Linked DNA regions of Homo sapiens: region 1 is linked to region 2. The links come from fine-mapping of genetic effects on gene expression. A gene starts in region 2. The other region holds a variant in brackets. All regions are shown on one strand. Distances are from middle to middle. Region 1 has its middle 59 kb from the start of DUT-AS1. Region 2 holds the start of DUT (deoxyuridine triphosphatase).

Evidence for each region. PIP is the estimated chance that this variant, and not a neighbour inherited with it, causes the effect.
Region 1: its variant is fine-mapped to the expression of DUT in neutrophils (BLUEPRINT, PIP 0.95).

The regions. Positions count from the first base shown.
Region 1 is chr15:48,385,181-48,396,400 of GRCh38, forward strand. No RefSeq gene overlaps it. Among named protein-coding and RNA genes, the nearest start is that of DUT-AS1, 59 kb to the left of the region's middle. The variant A/G (reference allele first, on the strand shown) is at 6,414.
Region 2 is chr15:48,327,164-48,338,383 of GRCh38, forward strand. It overlaps DUT (deoxyuridine triphosphatase), which reads left to right and starts at 4,266. Exons shown (of 7, transcript NM_001025248.2): 1 at 4,266-4,632; 2 at 5,105-5,243; 3 at 7,254-7,345; 4 at 8,883-8,927. The coding sequence starts at 4,353. DUT-AS1 (DUT antisense RNA 1) reads right to left here and starts at 4,693. Exons shown (of 3, transcript NR_186809.1): 1 at 4,400-4,693. RefSeq lists silencers at 2,305-2,495, 4,489-4,698, 4,749-5,043, 9,854-9,923 and enhancers at 3,774-4,300, 4,301-4,825, 4,749-5,043.

The DNA of each region.
Region 1 (11,220 bases), 58 kb after region 2:
TTGACTGAGTTCTTCACTCTGTAACCATTTCCTGACATCCTCTGCATGGACACTCTTGCACAGACATTTTTTTTTTTTTAATCTAGGAGTTGCACTTTCTTGGTTACTATGGCTGCAAATTGTTTATACTGGATTCATAGTCAGGTTTTTATTTCCTTTTGTAATTTTTCCCGTGAACTAATAAGCCACAGTGGAGTTAAAAGTGCGAGTAAATGTGAACTCTACACAAAGCATTTTTATGTTCTATTGCCATTCCCTTCCTACCCTTAATCATTTAGAGCTGTTAACATAAAAAAAAATAAAAGTGTTCAGCCTCCTCTCTACTCCCCTCCTTTGCCCTCTCATTTCCCAAGCATCAGAGGGGAAGAACCACCACCCATTTCCCATCAGGACTGTTTGCAGAGTAACACATGTCCTCAATTACTGGGATCAGAAACTGAAGGCACCTTGGGTTGGTGATAGATGACTGGTTGGCCTCTGCTGGATATGCGTCATGGATGCCACAATAGGAATGGCTTAGCAGGGCAACAGTTTTCTCTCCTATGATTCACTTCAGCTTTTAGCCTGGGCCATCCACCCAGTACTCATTGGATATGGGCCCAGTTTCAGCTTATATGTGAACCACTCTATGAGAGAATGCAAGCTGAGAGCCCATCTTAGGGGAGAAAGATCTCAAACTGAATCAAGAGGGGGAAATGCTTAAGAGTTACCTTTCAGCCAGGTGCAGTGGCTCACGCCTGTAATCTCAGCAGTTTGGGAGGCCGAGGCAGGCAGATCACAAGTTCAGGAGACGGAGACCAGCCTGGCTAACATGGTGAAACCCCATCTCTACTAAAAATACAAAAAATTAGCTGGGCATGGCGGCACGTGCCTGTAGTCCCAGCTACTCGTGAGGCTGAGGCAGGAGAATCGCTTGAACCCGGGAGGCGGAGGTTGCAGTGAGCCGAGATTGGGCACTGCACTCCAGCCTGGGTGACAGAGCGAGACTCCACCTCAAAAAAAAAAAAAAAAAAAGTGACCTTTCATAATAGGAAGAGACAAGGCTCTAGATAAAACTGCCTGGGTTTGAAACTTGGATCTACCACTTGCCAGTTGCATGACTTTTCGCCAAGCCACATAATTTCTCAGCCACAGTTTTTTTCATCTGGGAAAAGGAAATTAAGAATGATAATCCCTAACTCATGGAGTTGTCATGAAGGTTCAAGCACACTGCATGGCATTGATTAAATGCTCAATAAGAGCTAACAATTATCCCAGTCAAGAACTTTTTCGTAGCAATGGACCAAACACTTCTCACAACAGCTTAAGCACAGAAAGGCAGTGATTGATTCATATGAGATATGGATGGTCCAGGGAGTCAAGAAGTGTCAATAAGACTCAGTCTCTGCTCCCCTTGGTTCTGCTGGTGTGGTAGCCAGCCTACCAGGTGACTGCCAATGATCCCTACCTTCTGACAATGTCACCCTTGTGAAGTTCCCTCCGGCAGTGCACCAGGGTGGGTCTATGTGACCAATATAGTATGAAAGAAAAAATAGTATGTTGCTTCCATGTTTAAGTTATAAAAGACACCATGGCTTCCATTTGGCCTCTATCTCTGTCTCTGTCTCCCTCCCATTATTCACGCTGGGGAAGCCAGGTGCTATGTTGTACTCAGCACTACAGAGAGGCCCATATGGTAATGAGCTGAAGTCTCCTGCCAATAGCCACATGAGGCCATTTTGGAAGTGGGTCCTCCAGCCCTAGTCAAGACTTCAAATGACTGAAGTCCCTGCTGACAACTTGACTGTAACCTCATGAGAGACCCTCAGTGAAAACTATCCAGCTAAGCCACTCCTGGGTGCTATCCAGCTAAGTCACACTTGACCCTCAGAAGTTGTGTGAGATAATACAGATAGCCTTAATTGACTATGGTTCTATTTAAATGATTTTTTCAGCCTTATAATGGTGTGAAAGCAATATGCATTCGGTATAACCATACATCAAGTACCTATACAACCATCCAATTTTTCACCTTCAGTACAGTATTCAACAAATTACATGAGATATTCAACAATTTGTTATAAAATAGTCTTTGTGTTAGATGATTTTGCCCAACTGTAGGCTAATGTAAGTGCTCTGAGCAAGTGTGAAATGGGTACCATTTCTATCTCTATTCTATGAGGAGTAGAGGATCAGAAAATTTAAGTAACTTTCCCAAAGTCACACAGCTAGTAAGTGATCAAGCTAGAATTTGAACCAAGACACTTTAGTTCTAAGGTCCATGGTCACAACCACACTGCTAAAACACCAATACTATGAAGTATCACAACCTGTTGAGTTTTGATTTCAGGTATTTTGTCCTCTTATGTCTCAGTTTTACTTTCTTTCTTTTTTGTTTTTTGAAAAGGAGTCTCACTCTGTAGCCCAGGCTGGAGTGCAGTGGTGCAATACTGGTTCATTGCAACCTCCACCTCCTGGGTTCAAGTGATTCTCCTACCTCAGCCTCCTGAGTAGCTGGGATTACAGGCACCTGACACCATGCCCGGCTAATTTTTGTATTGTTAGTAGAGACAGGGTTTCACTATGTTGGCCAGGCTGGTCTTGAACTCCTGACCTCAAGTGATCCGCCCACCTCGGTCTCCCAAAATGTCGGGATTACAGACATCAATTTTTCATTTATGGAGTATGTGTCTCTACTGAATTAGAAATGGAGATGGCTTGGCCTTAACTCTGAAGTACTGGACAGATGCAGTTAAATACCAGTGTGGGGGGAATGTATAAACACTTTCTAGTGATGTGCATCCAGAGTTCTACTGTAAGCACCTCCTGACTGACAGACCATTCACACAAAGGCACCCTCTCTTCCAACACTAAACACCAGTGATGGACAAGTGGACATTTAAAAAGTCATGGATCTTCTGAGTGAATATTCATGTAGAGAGGTACCTTTAATATAAGCCATTTAATATTGGCTATAACCCATTTACATTCCTATGTTTATATTTGTTCCAATCAATTGCACAACAACCTTCCTCATCTGGCCATATTAGTAGGAAATTTATTGTTTTCTTCTGAAGCCTTGGCTCCCAACTTAAATTGTACAGAAACCTGGTGACTTGTTCAGTGCAGATGGGTTAGTTTGGCTCCCAAGCTTTAGGCTGTTTGGGCAGTTAATGCCCTAGTGTGGTTTGCAGGGTGCCCTGCATGTTGTCTGCTGTGGCAATGGGCCCTCATGAGTCCTGCACTGGCTCTGAATTAACCTCACCTTCAGGCTTCAAGATGTAGGCTCTCTTCAGTTATATGCAGAAGGTTATTTATAGCCTCCCAAACATAAATACCACAGCAGGGTGGCTGGTCTTGGCTGAGCATGCAGGAGTCCAGCCCAGGCTACACTCCTGGAACCAGCTCTTCCTATAAACCCGTGGCCTTGTTCATTGATCCAGACTCCTGCTTCCTGCCTGTGAAGTTCTTCTCTGGGCCCCTTGATGTCCCGGGGAACTTCTGTTAGGACTGTCTCGATCCATCAGAGAGGCTTTCATTCTGTAGAACTGCACAAACACCCCAGCAGTTCTGAACCTGGAGTGTGTAACACACCCTTCTTCCTGGAGAGTGGCCAAGTCTGCATAACCTAGACCATCCAAGTGTTGTAGGGAAACATCGAGTATCATCTTTCCCAGGATGACTTTCTGCATCTTCCTAAACACAAAAGCTCTTGGCAAATTTTCTTTCTAAAAATGTATTGAAGTTATACTTGGCTGGACATCCTGCTAGAGAAATTTAACAACTTCCCAGTGTATTAGAATCTTGGGCATACTCTCAGATGGAGCCGGCCTTTCTAGCCCCATGTCTTTAATAAATCTACTTGATTAGAGAAGAGACAATTCCCTAAAGAGAGGGCACTACCATTCCCAGAAAAAGAGAGGGCTGTTGGGCAGACAGACCAAAGGTGACAAATACATTGAACAATGTGTCTGTGTCTGGCTAGCTTTGTGCTTGAGAAAGGGGAAGACACAAACTTTTTGATTCTAGCTGGTCCTATTCTTACTGCAATAAACTAGGTATTGTTCACCACTTATGACATTTTAGTAGAAAAATTAATTTTGAGCTAATGAAAATTTGAGACAAGTATATGAATTCAGAGGTAACAGGGAGATGGGGAGTAGTTACTAAGTAGATTGTTGTTATTGCCTCAGGATCTTGACACTCTATTCATTTTCTATGCCCCAATTCCATTGGGAATAAGAGGGTAGCAATTTTATCAGTTAAAAATACACAGGTAATTACATAGTGGGCAGTTTCATCTCAAAAATAAGAAGGCACCGAGCAAAGCACCAGGAAATACCAAAACTATTTGGATGATCAATGTTGAAAGGAAAGAACTCACCATTTCTTCTCTCCTCTCCTCTCCCCTGCCTTCTCCACCTCCTTTCTTTGAGTGAGCAACTTGCTACGGATTAAGAATCCTTGGCAAAAGCATGTCCCTTTTGAGGCAAGGGGAAATTAATATTTGGGGGTGAAAGAGAGAAGGATTGGGAGAGGTGTAAGCAAGAAGCCAGGTGCCGATGATTTCCCTGGAAACCTAAGACTTTCTAATTAAAACCTGGCAGCCCCACCGAACAGCTTGCACCATGTGGGAAAGAAAAGCCTGAAAGGTTGGGACAAGGAGGCCTGATGTAATTACATTCCACTGAGTGAGGATCCTTTCCTGTGGGTCAGTATTGTCCTGGGAATATCATATTCTGTTCCTAATAAATTTCAACAGGCAAAGACATGGACACATCACCTAAAAGAGGTCTTCAAATGATTATGGTTCCTAAAAGTCAGGAAATAGGTCTGATTTCCCATTAAAGTAGGTTTTTCTGTTCAGCAGGGTTCCCAGGTCGCTGTCATATAAAAGTTATTTGCTGACTCATCTTGAAATTGGAGAATTTTCAATTTTCCATTGTGCATAGTTCTGTCTCTTTCCAGAGTTTTCTTTTTAAATAATTTTGTGCAATATATGTGAACTATGTTTCCCTGTTTTATATCCTAACAAGAAATGTTACTTGTTCTTGATTCCGATAAAGATGGGAGAAACACGGTTTTTTCAGGACTTCTCAATTTAGTGTGTAAAAAAGCATAAGACATGGAAAATTAGTGGCCTCATATTTTGAGACAAACTATTGAAAAATGTGTCTTTTATTTAAGTCTTTCCACATTTTAGTAAGACTTTAAAAAATTATTGCACTTAAGAAGTTTTTTTTTTTTTTTTTTTTTCTTTTGGTCACTCCTTTGACGCTTATTTACATATATGGCCAAATAAACTAGCTTAAAAAAACAAACAAACCTTTGTTTGTTTGTTTGTTTCAGTAGGAAAGAACATGGCTTCCAGTAACTCTTCAGTTACTTTTAAACAAATACTATCTCTCCGTTCTGGTACAGGGTCCTACTCTTCCTGTCTTGAGTCCTGGCCCTGGCTAGGTGACTGCATCCTGAGATTTGGGGAATGGAAAGAATTTTGGAGACCCTCTATTTTGTATCACAACTAGTAAGGGGTTCCATCCACACCCTCGTCCCTCTCAATTAGGCCTCTGCTTGTACATTCAGGGGTGTCTCTATTTTGTGAGGCTTTTTCCTGGAGGAGATAAACTCATTTTCAAAGTTGGGCAGGGCAGAAAGACTGGATACATTCAAATTCATTTGTTAATTCATGCATTAATTTATTCCTTTGACAAATATTTAATGAGCACCCTTGTGCTAGGCAGGCTTTGTGTTGGCACTGAGGACAGAGATCAACAAAGCAGACGTGTTCTCTGCCTTCCTGGAGGTCCCAATAGGGGTGATAGACATTGACCAAGTAAGTGCAGGGACAACTAATTGCCAACTAATTGCACATTTTGCAATTATGATAAGTGGCATGAAGGACAAGTAGAAAGGATGATAGGGCTAATCATAGGGAGAGATAGCTTAGACTAGGGGGTCAGTTGGAACTATTAACTAACACTCTTTTCATTTTTCTCTTATCACCCAAAGAAAGCCGGGAGTATGAAAGTATGGGTTAGAATTCCTTAAAATAACTACTTATTAGAAAGGGCAAGAAGTATCATAAATGAAACAGTATTGATACAACCTAGAAGTCATTGATAAGGGAATAGTTAACTACTTTATAATATACATTATTCAGCAATATTATTTAGCCTTAAAACTAACTTAGAAAGGAGTTGTTATGGGTTTCAGAAAATTCTTATGCTCTAGCATTGAGAAAAATTGCAAATGCAGCGATTATCTCAAATATACTATATATATACATATGTCTAGCAAATATCTGAAAACCATATCAACATGTTTTCCATTTTTATTTGTATTATTAAGGATGTTACAAGTATGTAGCTAAAACATATTTTTCATGAATACATGTAAAGCAAACATCTGTGTAACCACAGCTAGATCAAGAC[A/G]TAGAACACTGCCACCATCCACAGGCCGCCCTTTCCTCCCTTTCCCCTTGAACAGCTTGTATCATAATTCTGTCTTCTCACCTAAAGGTAAACACTATCCTGATTTTTGTGATAATCATTTTATATATATATATATATATATATATATATATATATATATATATATATATATATACACATACACATACACACACACACACACATAACATTTTAATATACATATATTATGTATATATATATACAGTTTTATCACCTATATGTATTCATAAGTAATGTAAGTTAGTTTAGCTCAATTTCAAACTTAATATATATAGAATTATACTTTCCTTGTGTTTTAACTCAACCTTGTTTGTGGAATTCATCCTTGCCATTGTGTATAGCTGTGGTTAATTAATTTCATTGCTTTGGTGTCCCTAGGTATGAATGAATGTAACACAGTTTATTTATCCATTCTACTATGAGTGGATATTTGAGTAGTCTCCAGCTTGGGCCTTTTACAGATAGTATTGCTGCCAACCTTCTTGTCCATGCACATTGTACACAGTGCATTGAGCCTCTTTACTGTACAAAGCTCAAGTGGACTTGCTGGGTCATAGGAGGTGCTGGTTATTTTCGGTTTCTACCCTTCCGCCCTAATCCATTCTTTGCCTTTCTGTGCCTTGCTCTGTGTTTCTTTATGTACCATATTACTAGAGTACCTTGCCTTCAGCTTTTAGTTAGGTTTGGGCAATGGGAGGTAACAGTGTGAGTTTAGGGGGTGGGAAAAAGAGTTTGGAGCATTCTCTGATTTCCTCTTGGCCTTCCCACAGTTCTGGCAGTGGCCGCACCGCGTTTTCTCTTAGGTTCTAGCTCTTACAAGACTCTGGTAACATTCTTTCCTCCTCTTGTTGTTTCAGGCTTAACAGGCTTTCCCCACTTTCTGTCCCATTATTCTCATTGCCAGTGGCAAGGAGCCAAGAACCTTCTTGTCTCTGCAGCATAGAACAGAGACAGAGCCTCCTGCCCAGCCTTCCAGGAAGCCCGAGTTCTCATCTTAATTCCCATACCCTGTTTCTCTGGGTTCAGGCTAAGGTTACTTCTCTGTTCACTAAAGCTGCATTTATTTTCTGGGTTTTTCTCTGATCCACTTCCAGAGACTATGACTCCAAGAGCAAAGCAGTCTGTTCACGAAATAGATCATTCCCTCTCAGTGCCCAGATTCTGTTGACCTAATAATCAATCAGGCCTTCTCATCTCCTTTCTCTCTTCCGTCAACTTCTGCTTCCCACACAAACGGTCCTGGTACTCCTGTAGCTGCTCTTCGCCCTCTCCGGGGATGTTCGGGTCTCCTGTGGATCTAGACAGGCATTAGTGGTGAATGCAGGTTTGGCGTCAGAGTGCCTGGGCTCAAATCCCTGTCCTGCTATTTATTAGCTGTGAACCCTTGAAGAGGGTACCACTCAATTTCTAGTAGGGCTTCTTTCTAGTCTGTAAAATGGTGATAATGTAAGAATAAAATGAATTACTCATATAAACTTCTTAATTGTGTCTGGTACCTGGTACATTCTTAATAAATGTTAGCTATAATTGTGGTTATTATCTGATACTTATATAAAAACCCATCATGTCATAAAAGCCTTCTGTCATGAAAAAGATATATATATATATATATATATATTTAGGTTCATGTAGTAGTAAAGTGTTTACTCCTCGAAAAAGCCCAAAGGCAAGCAGATATATGAGAAAAAGCATTGTCATATAAACTGCTTTATATCATGATGACCAATCCTCTCTTCCAACACTTCTCAAACCCAAATCCTTTAGGGTCTAATTTGGAAGTGGAGAGGGCAGAGGTGCATGGAAACAGAAGCGGCGCTGGTGGGGTGCTGTGTTTCATGCCTAGGTTATGGTGCACGACAGACACCACACACTGGAAAGTAGAAGCTTACCAGAGGAGATGGCAATTACAAACGCCCTCAGGAATTCATAGAAACCAGGGGGAGAGTTTTACATTTCCACAGGCTGGTGGGGTTGGGGTAGGGGGTGATGATAGAATTCAAGCCCATCTTACTCTGATCTAAGGGGCAAAGACACCCCATCTGAGTTATTCAAGTAGAGCCCAGAATGGATCACTGGCACCATCTCCCCCAGTTGTTGACAGTTGAGCAAGGAGCCGGGCGTTCTCCCCTCCCCTCCTCCTGCTGTGCTCTGTCTTGGCCGCCTTCCTTATGGATAGGCCATATGGGCCGTTTTGGAGCCTGTGTTTGCTTTGGCTTGGTGGTTCGCAGCTTACTTCCTGTTAACATTCCTCCACCTCTCACCCCACATTATGGGTCTCTCTCTCAGAGCCACCTGCTCTTTCTGTTCTCTGTGCCCATAACCTCAGCTCTCTGATTTCTCCATTCATTGCTTGGCTCTTAACTGGGACTCAAATCTCACTTCTGTTTAAGTATTTTCCATGCCAGCTTCTTGTTTGGACCAGATAGTGTTTCACCATGATGGGCCTTTATTAGGAGACAAAGGGGTGATCGGGGTGGTACCGGAAAAGGCAAGTTCATGTATCCAAATGACTGTCAAGTGAGACCAGAAAAAGCCCTTCTTCCCATGAGTTTTTGTCCAAAAAGCATCAGACCTAGTATAGAGGCGATTATGGCCAAAAAGGCGAGCGCTGAGTTTGAGGCCAAAAAAAACAGCCTAGGAGTGGAGGGAGGCACAAAACTGGCACACGTGCCTGTAGATTCTCTCACATTTACCCTCCTGGGTCTCCTTAACCCAGGCCCTTGGCCTAGTAAGAGTGCCAGGCCAGGCCACAGTCCAAGGCCAACATGTGTACGAAACTACCACACCCCGCATGTGGCATGACTTGTTCTGGCTACTCACAAACGACTCGATGTTCATCTCCTCTAGTGGAGTTCAGATAAGGCCTTTCAGCTTGGCTGTCTCCATCTGGTTCTTCCCATTGAGCCCAGGTCCAGTGGCTCCACAGAGAAACACCTTAACCTGCCTCAAGAACCTCTTCCCTTGACTTCAACTCAGGTGGATGTCCCAGCCAAGAATGCTTTGGCAGGATGAAACCGTGCTGTGAAGAGCGTGTTCAGGGTGTGGGTTTAAGTCTCACTTCAACCAGGTCTTAGCTGTGTGACCTTGAGCAAGTCCCTTCACATCATTCTACCTGTTTCCTCTTTTGTGAGATGGAGCTAATTATGCAAAGAGGTGTGAGAATTCAAAAAGATCACCCACGAATAATAAGGTGGGACAATTCCCTGAAAAGCACACCAGGCCTACTGAGACAGGAAATAGGCTTGGTGTTGTGTATGGAGAGGTAGACCTTCTTTGCCATTTAGGGGATGAGATCCATAGCACAGTAGGAAGTATGGTGGGTAGCTGAGTCTGGAAAACAACTGTGTGTGTGAATGCAGAGGACTGCATATAAAGTGCCAGAGCTGTGCCTGGCACTTGTTGTTTGCCAGCCAAGGGTCCCTGAGTTGAGAACACACACACCAAGGACAGTGGAGAAGAGCAGATGCCATCCTTACATGTGCAGTGTTTTTGGCCTTGCTCCCATTCTGAAAGTGCCTGTCTGAAGGGATCTGGCTCCTGGAATGGGCAGGGGTTTTTGTCATCTGTTTCGCTGGGAGGAAGTCCACAGTCAGGGATTTTGTAGAATCTTAATGGTGACCGCCAGGCAGTGGCAACTATAGCCAAAAACAATGAGGCTCCTTGGTACACTAAGGAAGGCTTCGGGTTTAATGCCTTAGGGCAATACTCATCTGGACCGACTTTTTAGACTGAAGAAGCCTTCCTGGGGTCTTGGGGTTTTTACATAGACATAACAGGGGTGCCAAGGCATTTAGTGTACACATTTGAAAGATTGTGACTGCATTTTTATCCCAAGCTTATGAAGCAGCTACATTTGTGAAGTGGTTAGCAGGCTGCCTGGCATATTTTAAGGGTTTCATAAATGATGCTCATTATTATTAAGCACGCGTGTCACAGCAGCCAGAGCACTGAGCAGCGCTCCTTGGCAGCTGCAGCTCCCCAAGGGGAGGGCGGTGCCTTACAAGTTGGGAGAAGACAGTGGAATCATTAAGCAGCTGACACATACCCAGTCACTCCAAGGAATCTCCCATCCCTGTTCAGAAGTCTGACCCAATTTGCTCAGCTTTTCTCCTGAGACTCTCTTGTTCCAGCCACAAATCTGAGCTGGGAGCACCCTTCCTCTTAGCCACCTGTGACTGGGAGGCAGCGGGGGTGGCCCAGAGCTCACCCTAGTTGGGAGACTTGAGCAGTAGCTCCTCTCCTCCAGCATTCCCTGGTGGGGGTGTGGAAGGCTGTGAGTAAGGGAAGAGAGAGGGTGTGGGGCACCTCACATGGTCAGGGAGGGCTCCCCTCCCTTGGAACTCACAGCAGCCAGGTCATGGGCTCACTGGGGTTGTTTATCATCCTCAGTCTTGGGGAGAACAGGCTCACATGACAGCGCTTTGCAAATCGGTAAGTTTTTTTCCAAACATACAAAAACCTAGGCCTGGGGTTTAGGACTTCTAGAACTTCAGAGCACACGGTCCTGTGTCATGACTCTCAAACGGGGACACACATCACTTAAGTCAAGTGGAGGTGGAGCTGTCACGTTAGTCACTGCAGTTTGCAAGGCTTGGGTGCCAGATTCTTGTCAGATACCTCTCTGTATCCCTATGGAAACCAGAAGAATGGAGAGTGACTTGTGATGGGCTGTCCCAGGCATTGAGTCTCACAGAATCAGAGAGCTGGGAGCACAGGGGGTATGGGAGTGGGAACAGAGGAGGGAGATGGGGGGCAGGCAGATGTGGGA
Region 2 (11,220 bases):
GGCTTCTGTCTTTTTTTGGCTTACACATATTTCTATTAAGCGTGAACTGTGGCATGATAAATGAGTATTTTGTTCCATGATGGAATGTTCTAAATTGAAATATAGATTCCTTCAGTTATAGGAAATGATGACAATTTTCCATTAATTTTTTCAGTTCTTCCATTCCTCAATGATCGCCAAAGAACATATTCCCCCGAGGAGGAGTTTGAGAGTTTTGTTCAAACTCACAAAAAACTAAGACAGCTCAACTGTCTATTGGAGATCCTCTCCATGGGAGGTTTGGGCAGAAGGACAGTGATCCAGATGGAGGTCGGAGATGAGAAAGAGGAGCAAAGAAAGTAATAAAAGCATGGGTAAATATTTTTTTAATGACTATAAAAAGTAGTAAAATAATGATGCTTATTGAGATTAAAAGATACATTTAATACACTAGACAGTAATAGCATATTTGTCAAAAGAAGGGTTAATGGTGTTAAAGCAGTCTAAGGTCCTTGAGTTATCCAGAAGACAATCATTTTGATTAATTTTATATTTTAGACACTGTATGTTTTAATTTATTTAAAATAATAAAACTAAAGAGTAAAACATCTAAATTAGAGGGGAAAGGTGAAATAAAAAACATTTAGTAAATTTCACAGAAGGCAGGAAAAGGTTTTAAAAAGGAACATCTGAAACCCAAATTAAGATAGGTTTAAATCCATCATGAAGGTTATATGATAGTGGAGGAAACAAACAGCTAACGAGTCAAGTGAATATACATGTAATTTTACATAGCAATATATACTATGCAGAAAAACCCAACAGGGTAAAGCATTAGATGCTGCCTAGGAGGAGACTATTTTTAGGTAAGGGAAGACCTAAGATAGAAAGAGGAGGTAAGTAAGACTCCAAGGGTTTTTATCGTGAGCAATAACAGGTTGAGAAGGGAAGAGGAGCCAAGGAGACTGAGGAGACAGCCAGTGAAATGGGAGGAAGTGTTTCAAGAAGGATGGTATGATCAACTGTGAAATTAAGAATGCTTGGCTTATTTACTACAAACATCTCTCCCAGACCTGGAAACACAGCCAGTAGCAAGGTCAGTATTAAGTTACCACAAGGCCAGGCACAGTGGCTGATGCCTGTAATCCTAGCACTTGGGCAGGCCAAGAAAGGCGGATTGCTTGAGCCCAGGAGTTCAAGAGACCCGCCATGGGCAACATGGTGAAATTGCATCTCTACAAAATGTACGAAAAATTAGCCAGGCGTGGTTGCACGTGCCTGTAGTCCCAGCTATCTGGAAGGCTGGGGTGGAAGGACCACCTGTACTCCAGCCTTGGTGACAGAGTAAGACCTTGTCTCAACATCAACAACTGCAAAAGAGTTACCATAGACTCAACAGGGGACATATAAATCTACAGCGCACAGTGGCTAAACGCAAGGGTTCTGAGGCCAGACTATCTGAATTGTGGTTTAACCTCCTTCTAGTTGTGATCTGTGTGATCTTGGGTAAGTTATTTAATCACTCTGTGCTTTGGTATCCTCATCTGTAAAATGGGGATAAAGAATTTGTTTCCTCTAGTTGTCATGATTAAACGAGTTTTTTTTTTTGAGACAGGGTCTCACTCTGTTGCCCAGACTGGAATGCAGTGGCATGATAATAACTGTCTGCAGCCTCCCAACTCCTGTGCTCAAGTGATCCTCCCACCTCTGCCTCCTGAGTAGCTAGGGCTACATGTGCCTGCCACCCACCATGCCTGGCTAATTTTGTATATGTTTTGTAGAGATGGGGTCTGCCTACGTTGCCCAGGCTGGTCTCGAACTCCTGAGCTGAAGCAATCCTCCCACCTTGACCTCCCAAAGTGCTGGGATTACAGGTGTGAGCCACTGCACCCAGCCAATTTTTTTTTTTTTTTTTTTTTTGCGACGTCGTTTTGCTCTTGTTGCCCAGGCTGGAGTGCAATGGCGCAATCTCAGCTCACCGCAACTTCCGCCTCCCGAGTTCAAGCGATTCTCCTGCCTCAGCCTCCCGAGTAGCTGGGATTACATGAATGTGCCATCACATGCGGCTAATTTTGTAGTTTTAGTAGAGACGGGGTTTCTCCATGTTGGTCAGGCTGGTCTCGAACTCCCGACCTCAGGTGATCCGCCCGCCTCAGCCTCCCAAAGTGCTGGGATTATAGGTGTGAGCCACCACGCCTGGCCTCGAGTTAATATTTTTTAAAGCACTTAGAATACACCTGACATAAAGTAGTAACAATGTGTATCTTTGTTAAAATGAGAGAGAAATCCCCAAAATGGCAAAGATAGGAAAAACAACCATGCTTTTCAAGTACTGACTTGCATTTTCAGAAGGTTCAAATTGGCACTAGACTTAGGTAATTGAATTAATCAGCATGACTGATAGGATAACTATAGTCTGATAAAGAAAACACCATGAAGGGCAGGGTGCGGTGGCTCACGCCTGTAATCCCAGCACTTTGGGAGGCCGAGGTGGGCGGATCACCTGAGGTCGGGAGTTCGAGACCAGCCTGACCAACATGGAGAAACCCCATCTCTACTAAAAATACAAAATTAGCCAGGCGTGGTGGCGCATGCCTGTAATTCCAGCTACTTGGAAGGCTGAGGAGGAGAATTGCTTGAACCTGGGAGGAGGTTGGGGTGAGCCGAGATCGAGCCATTGCACTCCAGCAAGGCTCTGTCTCAAAAAAAAAAACAAAAACTATGAAGTAAATTATGGTTGAAACATGTTTAGTTCTTAACTGCAGTATCTTGCATTTAAGGTGTATGTTCATAACAAGTTATATTTCTATTGTCATAAAGAACGTTCTATTAAATGCTTACTGGCTCAGAATCCTATTACTTTTTGCCAGTTAGATTATGGCCGTTTCTCTTTTAGTCTAAAATAAACTCAGCTGAAAAGTAACAATAAACACTTTATGTATACAGATTAACAACAAAAAATAGAAGGTAACCTGCTTGGTGTTAGATATTGTAATAAGCCAAACAAGTAACTTTTGTGTAAACACTGAAGTAAGTGCTTTGAAGAATTCATAAAAGTTTATGACTCTAATTCATGTGAGAGATAAAATGCATATACATCAGAAGATTACACAATGAAAGTATATGGCTAACGACTAATGAATGATATAGTAAGTGTTAAAAGAGATAAGATGGGGCAGAGGTCACTACTGATTGTAAAAAGTTTCATGAATGAAGCGAGACTTTTATCTGGGTCTAGGAAAATGAAGTCGTTACAATCATTACATCTTAGTACAAGCAAGGAATCAAATAGTATGTCTCTCATGTGAACATTTTAAGTAAATAACTGGAGAAAGTACTTCAACAAAATAAGGGAGCAAAATAATGTTGGCTCAAAATGAGGTCGAAAAGTTGCAGGGCTCGGATCGTGTTGCTAAAGGCATAAATTTGGGAGTCCTCAAGCTGTAGCTAATAGTTAACGTCCAGAGAAGGTAGTGTATATTCCATAGCCTCATGCAAAGGAATTCCAACTACGAAGACGAACCAGTTAAGGAGACCGAAAAGGGGGGGCCTGTATGGAAAGGCATAGCAACGAATGTAAAATTTCCCCAATAATACTCTAAAACTGCCCCACAGCTTTTTTAATTTTGAAAATTCAAAACCATTCAATTCAGCTCGCAGATTTTTGTGAGAAATAAGGAGATACTTGCAGCTCAGAAAAAATTATTAACAACTATCTAGAAAGTTACTGCTTTATCCCCCACTGTAAACTATACTACCACGACCCGGGATCCTTGTTCGACTCCTAGCCAAGGGGTTCCCACTGCGTTTCTGTTGGGTTATCCCAAACCTGTGATAGGATAGTAGCGCCCTCCCTGCCTCCGGTCGAATAAACACTACAACGTCTGACACTCGGTGCTGAAAGGAAATCGGGCGCGGTGTCTTGCCCACAGCTTGGGGAGCGGCCCCGGGCGCAATAACTGTCACCGGCGCCGAGATGCGGTTCCGGCGCTTAGGGCGCCGCTAAACTCAGAGCCCGGGAGTCATGGCTGCGGGCGGTGCCGCCCCAGGTAAATCAGTCCAGGAGCAGGGCCCGGGCCTGGCGTACACTCTCGGAAAAATGGGGGCCAGAGCAAACAAGAAGAGCGAAAGCAAGAGGGCTAGGCAGCCAGAGGCGGCAGCAAGACTCAAGACGCCAACGGCGCCGTCTTCCTGGGGCCCCAGGGCCTGCGCCATCCCTGGGCTGCCGGGGCACCGCCTCTCCACGCCCCTCGTCCGGCGGCGGCTGCGACTGCTTCCGAGGTCATGTTCCCAGGACGGGCGCGTCTTCAGGGTGGAAGCCTGGCGCACGTCCGGAGGTGCCGAGGACCCAACCAGCCCAAACTCTGGGGGAAATGACTCCCCTCTGCCCTCGCCCCGCGCTCTGCTACCATTTCCTTACGTCTCTGCTTCGCTCAGCGATGCAAAACGCGCGAGGCGCACGGCAGAGGGCCGAAGCCGCGGTACTCTCCGGGCCAGGCCCGCCCCTCGGCCGCGCCGCGCAGCACGGGATTCCCCGGCCGCTGTCCAGCGCTGGCCGCCTGAGCCAAGGCTGCCGCGGAGCCAGTACAGTCGGGGCCGCTGGCTGGAAGGGCGAGCTTCCTAAGGCGGGGGGAAGCCCGGCGCCGGGGCCGGGTAGGAAAGGCGGGGGAGGGGCTCCGGCCGTCTGGAAGGAATCCACGCGGCTTGAGGCTGTGGGGGAAGTAGGGTGGCGAGCGGTCCTTCTGCGCGCGGGGGGCGGGGGGGGTGGGGTGGTCCATTAGGGTCCCCTGGCGAGGGGGCGGCTTTCTAGTGTGTGAGGGCGACGCCCTAGAAGCTCCCCTTCAAAGTTGGCCCCACGCGCTGAATGTGGAAAGTTGACTGGGACCCAGTAGTTTCCCATCCCAAACCTGCTTTCCGAGAAGGGCTTCAAACCCAAAATGTGAATCCCGCCTCCCCTCTCAGCCAGAACTGTGGACTCGTCCCGGGGAGGGGCGGTGGGTGGGGCGGGGCTGGCGGGAAATTTCGGTTTTGGCGCGCTCCCTGCGGCGACGCTCATCGTGCGCTCTCCTCTTCCCCCGGTGGTCTCCTCGCTCGCCTTCTGGCTCTGCCATGCCCTGCTCTGAAGAGACACCCGCCATTTCACCCAGTAAGCGGGCCCGGCCTGCGGAGGTGGGCGGCATGCAGCTCCGCTTTGCCCGGCTCTCCGAGCACGCCACGGCCCCCACCCGGGGCTCCGCGCGCGCCGCGGGCTACGACCTGTACAGGTGAGCGGGGACCTGCCGGCGAGGAGGCTGGGAAGGGCCGGCCGTCCGCTGCCACAGCTAGAAACAGTCACCGGAGAGATCACAGGAACACACTAGCTATAAATAGGATTTCTGCCTTTTTCGTGTTTAAAATTTTAGCTTTCATCTTTGGCATAAATTAAATAGAGATTTGGGCAAAGACTGCAGAATAAGTAAAATAGCTATACGGTGTCTAGCAAGGCGTTACTTTGCAACGTTTATTGTGCCCTTCCTAAATAGAAGATAGAGAGGAAGGCCCATGGTGGCTTTCGAGTGGCCCGAGGGTGATGCTGTGCTCAATAGAAAAACCAAGGTGAGAGCCTAGATGTGAGCGTGAAAATACCTAAGAAGGATGAACGAAGATGCATCTGCCTTAAAAAGTTATTTTCTATACATTCATCCGGCCCAGGGCGGAATTTGAGAAGGCATCTGAAAACGAAAGGCAGAGCTGCCTGTAATCTACCACACTTTCATCTCTACAGCACGTTTTACCTGTACTAAAAACTTTCCGTATGCTGTTGTATTTAGTCCTCACAACAATCCTTAACTAGATAAGTGTTACTTTTTACACAGGCAGGAGTTTGTGAAGAGCTGAATTGATTTCCCCAGAGGCTTGAAGATGATATAATTTTTTATCCCGAATTTTGGGCTTTTTTTTTTTCATCTGACTACTGTGCCCAGTTCTTAGAACCATTAAGGTAGGAGAAAAGTAATGCTGAGAGGGAAGGAGATTTTATACTAAATCCCAAGCATTGGGATTTATTTTAAAGTATCTCAGATAATTCAAACATGAGAACTATTAGTCTAAGCACAGGAGAAGAGAAAGTAGTGCCTGATGATAGCAACAGAAAAAAAAGGAAAAGGAAAGTAGGTATGGACAATTGTAGCTGGAAAAACTACAGTCTCTTAATTTTGATGAATAAAAGTAGAGTGATATAGTTTGACTAGACCTTTCCAAAGTATATTTTGGAGCACTTTCTTGAGTCCTAGGGGAGTCCTTGATTTAAGATACCTTAAGTAGACTCCTAATAAACACAGGTGACTTTCTGTATACTGAAATTGACATGGAAATAATGGATCAGCAATAAATTAGGGCTTAACTGTTTAAAGAGGGATTTCAGTGAAAGAAGGGGTAGTACTGCTTTACCAGAGTTAATTAAGGTCTCCAAAGTAAACTTCCGGTTCTGCTCATTGTAAAATCTCTTAAATTTCTACCCAGGAGAGGGCCACAGTAATATCAAGAGTAGCAGCATTTGCTATGTGGACTTTAGAGGAATTCTGTTCCTAAGCAAGGTCCATCTCCAGGGGCCGTTCACGGTGATCAGCTGTCTCCCTCAGCCAGGAAATTCATAGCCTAAGCTTGGTAAACTACCAAGCCCTGCCTGACAGATACAACACAGTTCTTTATCTCTTATTTTGTCCACCCGTTTTTCTCCTTTCCTTCTGCATATTTTCCCTAATCACACAGATCATTGTGAGAATAAAATGGGTTAATATATGTAAACCAATTAGAACTGTTCCTGGCACACAGTAAAGGCTTAATCAATGATAGCTAGTATTATTAGTAGTATTTGGCCTTTTTTCTTTGTTCTTTCTTCATTTTTTTCCTTTTCAAACTATGGTTGTAAAGCATCCACCTTTTGAAAGTTTGCCTTTCTGCCCTTTCACGCTGATAAGTACCTCAGTTTCCAATAAACTTTTGTTCAGGGGCAAACATTTACAATGTTGACATCTCTTCACACCACCAAAAATATTCATGGAGAATTATTTTATCTAAAGCTGTCTTTTTAATAATAAAATAGCCACCTCTACCTTCTTCATAAACTTTTAAGATGAATTGGTAATTCATCATAGCAAGGTTGATTTTAGAAACTAAAGTTGCATTAATTCATTAAATACACTGAAAGTAATTTTGTATGCTTGGTCACAAAGAAAATATAAAAACAATTTTATAAATAGATTTGCAGTTATTTTCTTTCAATATTTTCTTAGTGCCTATGATTACACAATACCACCTATGGAGAAAGCTGTTGTGAAAACGGACATTCAGATAGCGCTCCCTTCTGGGTGTTATGGAAGAGTGGGTAAGTCATTTAAGAAACAGGTAACTATTTGTCAAGTTCTCCTTTGTGATAGATTCTTCATGTTTCATTTGGGGTAATAAGCAGGCAATATTGCTTGGGCTGTGTCCTAAAAGAAGCACCATTTGTGATAGCAAATGCACTCTTTGAAAGGCTTTATTTACATCTCTGCTTTGCCTCTTTTTGACCCTTTTATTTTTCTCCTTCCTCACTGGAGCTTTTAGGCTCACACTGGCCTAGAAGGCTGTTCTCAGAACATGGCATTTTATATTATGAGAGTAAAACTTCTGACCTGTTGGTCCCAGAATGTGTAAGCCTACTTAACCTTTTCTTGTTTGGCCATGGGGTTAGGGTAAGGGATACTCTTCAGTGTTGTAGAGGCACTGGGAGGAGCTAGGACAAAATGGAGTACACGTCAACAGGTTTGATTTTTCTGGAGCGGATCAGTTGTTACCAGACAGTTCTTTGCAAGAGCGTAAGTTCTTTTTGACTAACTTCAGAGTAAACATAAAGGAGGCAATGGAGCTGTGACGCCCTCCTCCAGGGAAAGGAGCTAGACTGGCACTATATTATTAGCCATGAGTGAGGAAACTGCCAGTACTTCAGCCCTTAAAAGATAACAAGATGGGCTCTCATCTCATCTCTTGAGCATCATTGACTCCATTTTTTAGAATTTTTTCAGGGGAAGGGGCAGGAGATGGAGTGAAATAAAGGTTAGTACAGAAAGAGGCAGCATTATTGACAAAGTGCCTGATTTAAATTATTCTAAAATAAAATGCTGGAAGTTAGGATAATTAATTATAGGCCTGATGCTTGAGTCTGCAATAATAAGGTGTAACCTTAGCTTTTTATTTTTTTCATTTTTTAGGATTAAAAAGTATACTAGCATTGAATCATTGAGACTTAGTTTTTGGCATTTTTACTTAACTGATATTAGCCCATTTATCTTACTCTGGTTCATGTGTTTCCTACAGGCATGTCTTTTGGCATCTGAATCATGAATAGTGGGGTCCCAAGTTGTAGGCTATGGTCTGCTACTATTTGGTTAGGTTTGTTTCCCTCTCCCTTCCTCTTCCTTTCCCTTCCCATCTGCATTGTACATGTTGTGGTGTCCCATCTTAAAACCAAAGTCTTCTTCCTCAGTAGTGTGTTCCTGCTGGCCATACTTCTCTTTCTTCCCCTTTGAGGCTTAACTTCTTGAAAGAGCAGCCTACAGTTGTTCCCGCTTGCTCACCTTTCAGCTCATTCTAGCAGTCCTTCTCCCCTGTCTGCAGCACCACAAATTCTGACTGAAGTCACATGGGAGTGGTTTAAGTTAGTTTTGAATTAAAACCTTGTGGAATTTTTCTAAACTAGTCTTTCCAACTTTGGTAATGCAGTATGATGAATATATATTCTTTAATTCAAAACCATGTGCTAAAGTTAAGATGAAGATATAGATATTATAGGTGAAGAGAATGACATGCTTAAATTGCATCAGTTATCTCTGATATAGCCCTTCCCCCTTAAAATAACCAATGTCTCCTTTTTTGTTTTTTAGCTCCACGGTCAGGCTTGGCTGCAAAACACTTTATTGATGTAGGAGGTAATATATTTCCTTTTTTATTCTGTAAATGTTTGCAAGTATTTACTTTGTCTTTAAAAGGTAATATTCAAATGACAGATTTTATTTTTAAGAAAAGAAAATGATTAGAGGAAAGCTTGTTATAATAGGAGGAAAAGCTTTGTGGTTATTTTAAGTAATTATATTTTGTTTAACTACTAACTTAATTTTTAAAATAATGATTACCTAATTAATAATGACAGATTTAATGATATAATAATTAAGTAATTATTTAAGCAACAAAAGTTCTAGAAAACACAGGTCTATCTTGTAAGAATTTTCTTCATAAGAGAGCTATCTGTCTTTAGCAAAATTTAAGAAGAAAATCTTTCCCTGAAGTCAGGAGAGAAAACACTTTTCTCTAAATTTGTTAAGACAGTCCTCTGTGTTACCTGTTTCCCTTATAATAAAGCCTTTCTCATGTTTGTCTCAAAGTTAACCCTACCTCATGTGGTACCTTTCATGAAGAACCCTCAGTGTCCTCTGCTAACTACTCTTGATACAGAGCTACTCCTCTTATTGTAAGGAAATTTCTACTTTCCTGATGTGGTTTCCTTGTTTCAGGTCCGCTCCAACTGGGATTCAGACCCCACTTATGTGGTCCTTACATACTGACCCTTTATCCCATCAGTAGTGAATCTTTCACTTAACAAGATACCTTGGCCCCCACATAAGTAGGTGTGCTAGATCTCCTCCTCCACCCGTTTTTACAGAGCTGCTTTATGGAGGCTTGTTAACAGATCAGGAAAACTGGCTTAGAAATGAGCCCACATGGATATGTGGTAAAAACTGGAGTCTCTGTGTGATTCCAGCCTCCTTGTTCTTTCCACTGCAATTAATTGTGGAGATTACCCTGCTGCATCCCCCTCACCAACTAAACACGTCCAGAATTAGCTCACTTTTATGTGCCACTGCAAGGGCTAACTAAGCACTTAATGAAACCTGGCTATCCTAGACCTGCCCCTTAGTCTAACATTTGGTGGGTGTGGTGTCTCTCCATAGTGTCACCAGGTGGTGCTGTGGGACAAGACAGGACCCCAAAAGTACACCCTTTAGGGACTAAAGGGGAGCTGAGTTTTACATAGCAGGGTGGACATTGACAGCCCACTCTTGGGTTGAGGATTCCTTGGGCTCTGTAAGTTATGCCCGATGTTCAAAAATGCTTTTACAAGGTCAACTGTGGTCATTTTGGGACAGTAACTTAAGGATATAAATAATTGTATATATTTTCAATGAAGTTTCAAATGATTGTTCAAGGAACGGGAGCTTTGGAATAACAACTGGATGTAGGTCCCAGCTCTGTCATTAACTAGTTATTACTTAACCTTTCTGAGCCTGTTTCCTCATTTTACAATGGAAATTAGTGTGCCTGCCTCTAGAGGTAGGAGGATTAAATGATAATGTGTATGAAATACCTAATATAGTACTTGGCACATATTAGATTCTGTGAGATATAATTTCTGTCCTTAGGGACTTCACAGATTGTTTTTATGTGGAAACTTTTTCTTTTATTCGACTTTGTTACTAATTTTTGCTCTGTTTAAAACAACTTTCTGGAAAAAAATTCATGTAAAAGAATGGAAAGTTAGTTTGCCTAGTGGTTGGTATGGTGTTATTCATAAAATCACATTGTGGTGTGTTCTTGGATGCAGAGAATCTTAACAATCTCCCTTAGGCACAAGTTTATCATAGTTGGCAACAGTTTTTATTTCTGAAGAGAGATGTTGTTAGAAATCCCAGGCTCTAAATAAGGGTCAAAGGGAAAAGTTGAGCATTCAGGATTCTGTTCAGAATTCACATCTGGTAGGTGTGGATAGTTTTTCACTAAAAAAGGTTTCCAACAAATGACATGCCAAACTCTTGACACAGTAAAACTTTTGCCTGAAGTCAGTTAATCACTCTGCCAGTTCCAATGCATGATTTTTCCAGTGATAACTTCAAGTTACTTTCTGCTTTCTCTGAGGAGAAATATCCCTGATACTTATATCCTGTAGGCAGAGAAGGCTTTTCTTGGAGGTCGAATGGCAATTGGGTGGTAAATGAATTTGGAACTACTGAAATTTTTATACCGTCAACATTCATGCAAAAAAAAAAACTATTGAGGGCCTTTTTTTCTGCCATACATTTGAATTGACTTCAAACTTCTTAATTTCTTTTAGTCACTTAAAGGTTTTTCACATTTTCGTGGCCCAAGCATAAAGATCACCTATCTGCAGGATTCAAGACACCCAATCATTTGAGTAGTTCTGATAGGACTGCTTTACAGATACGTTAG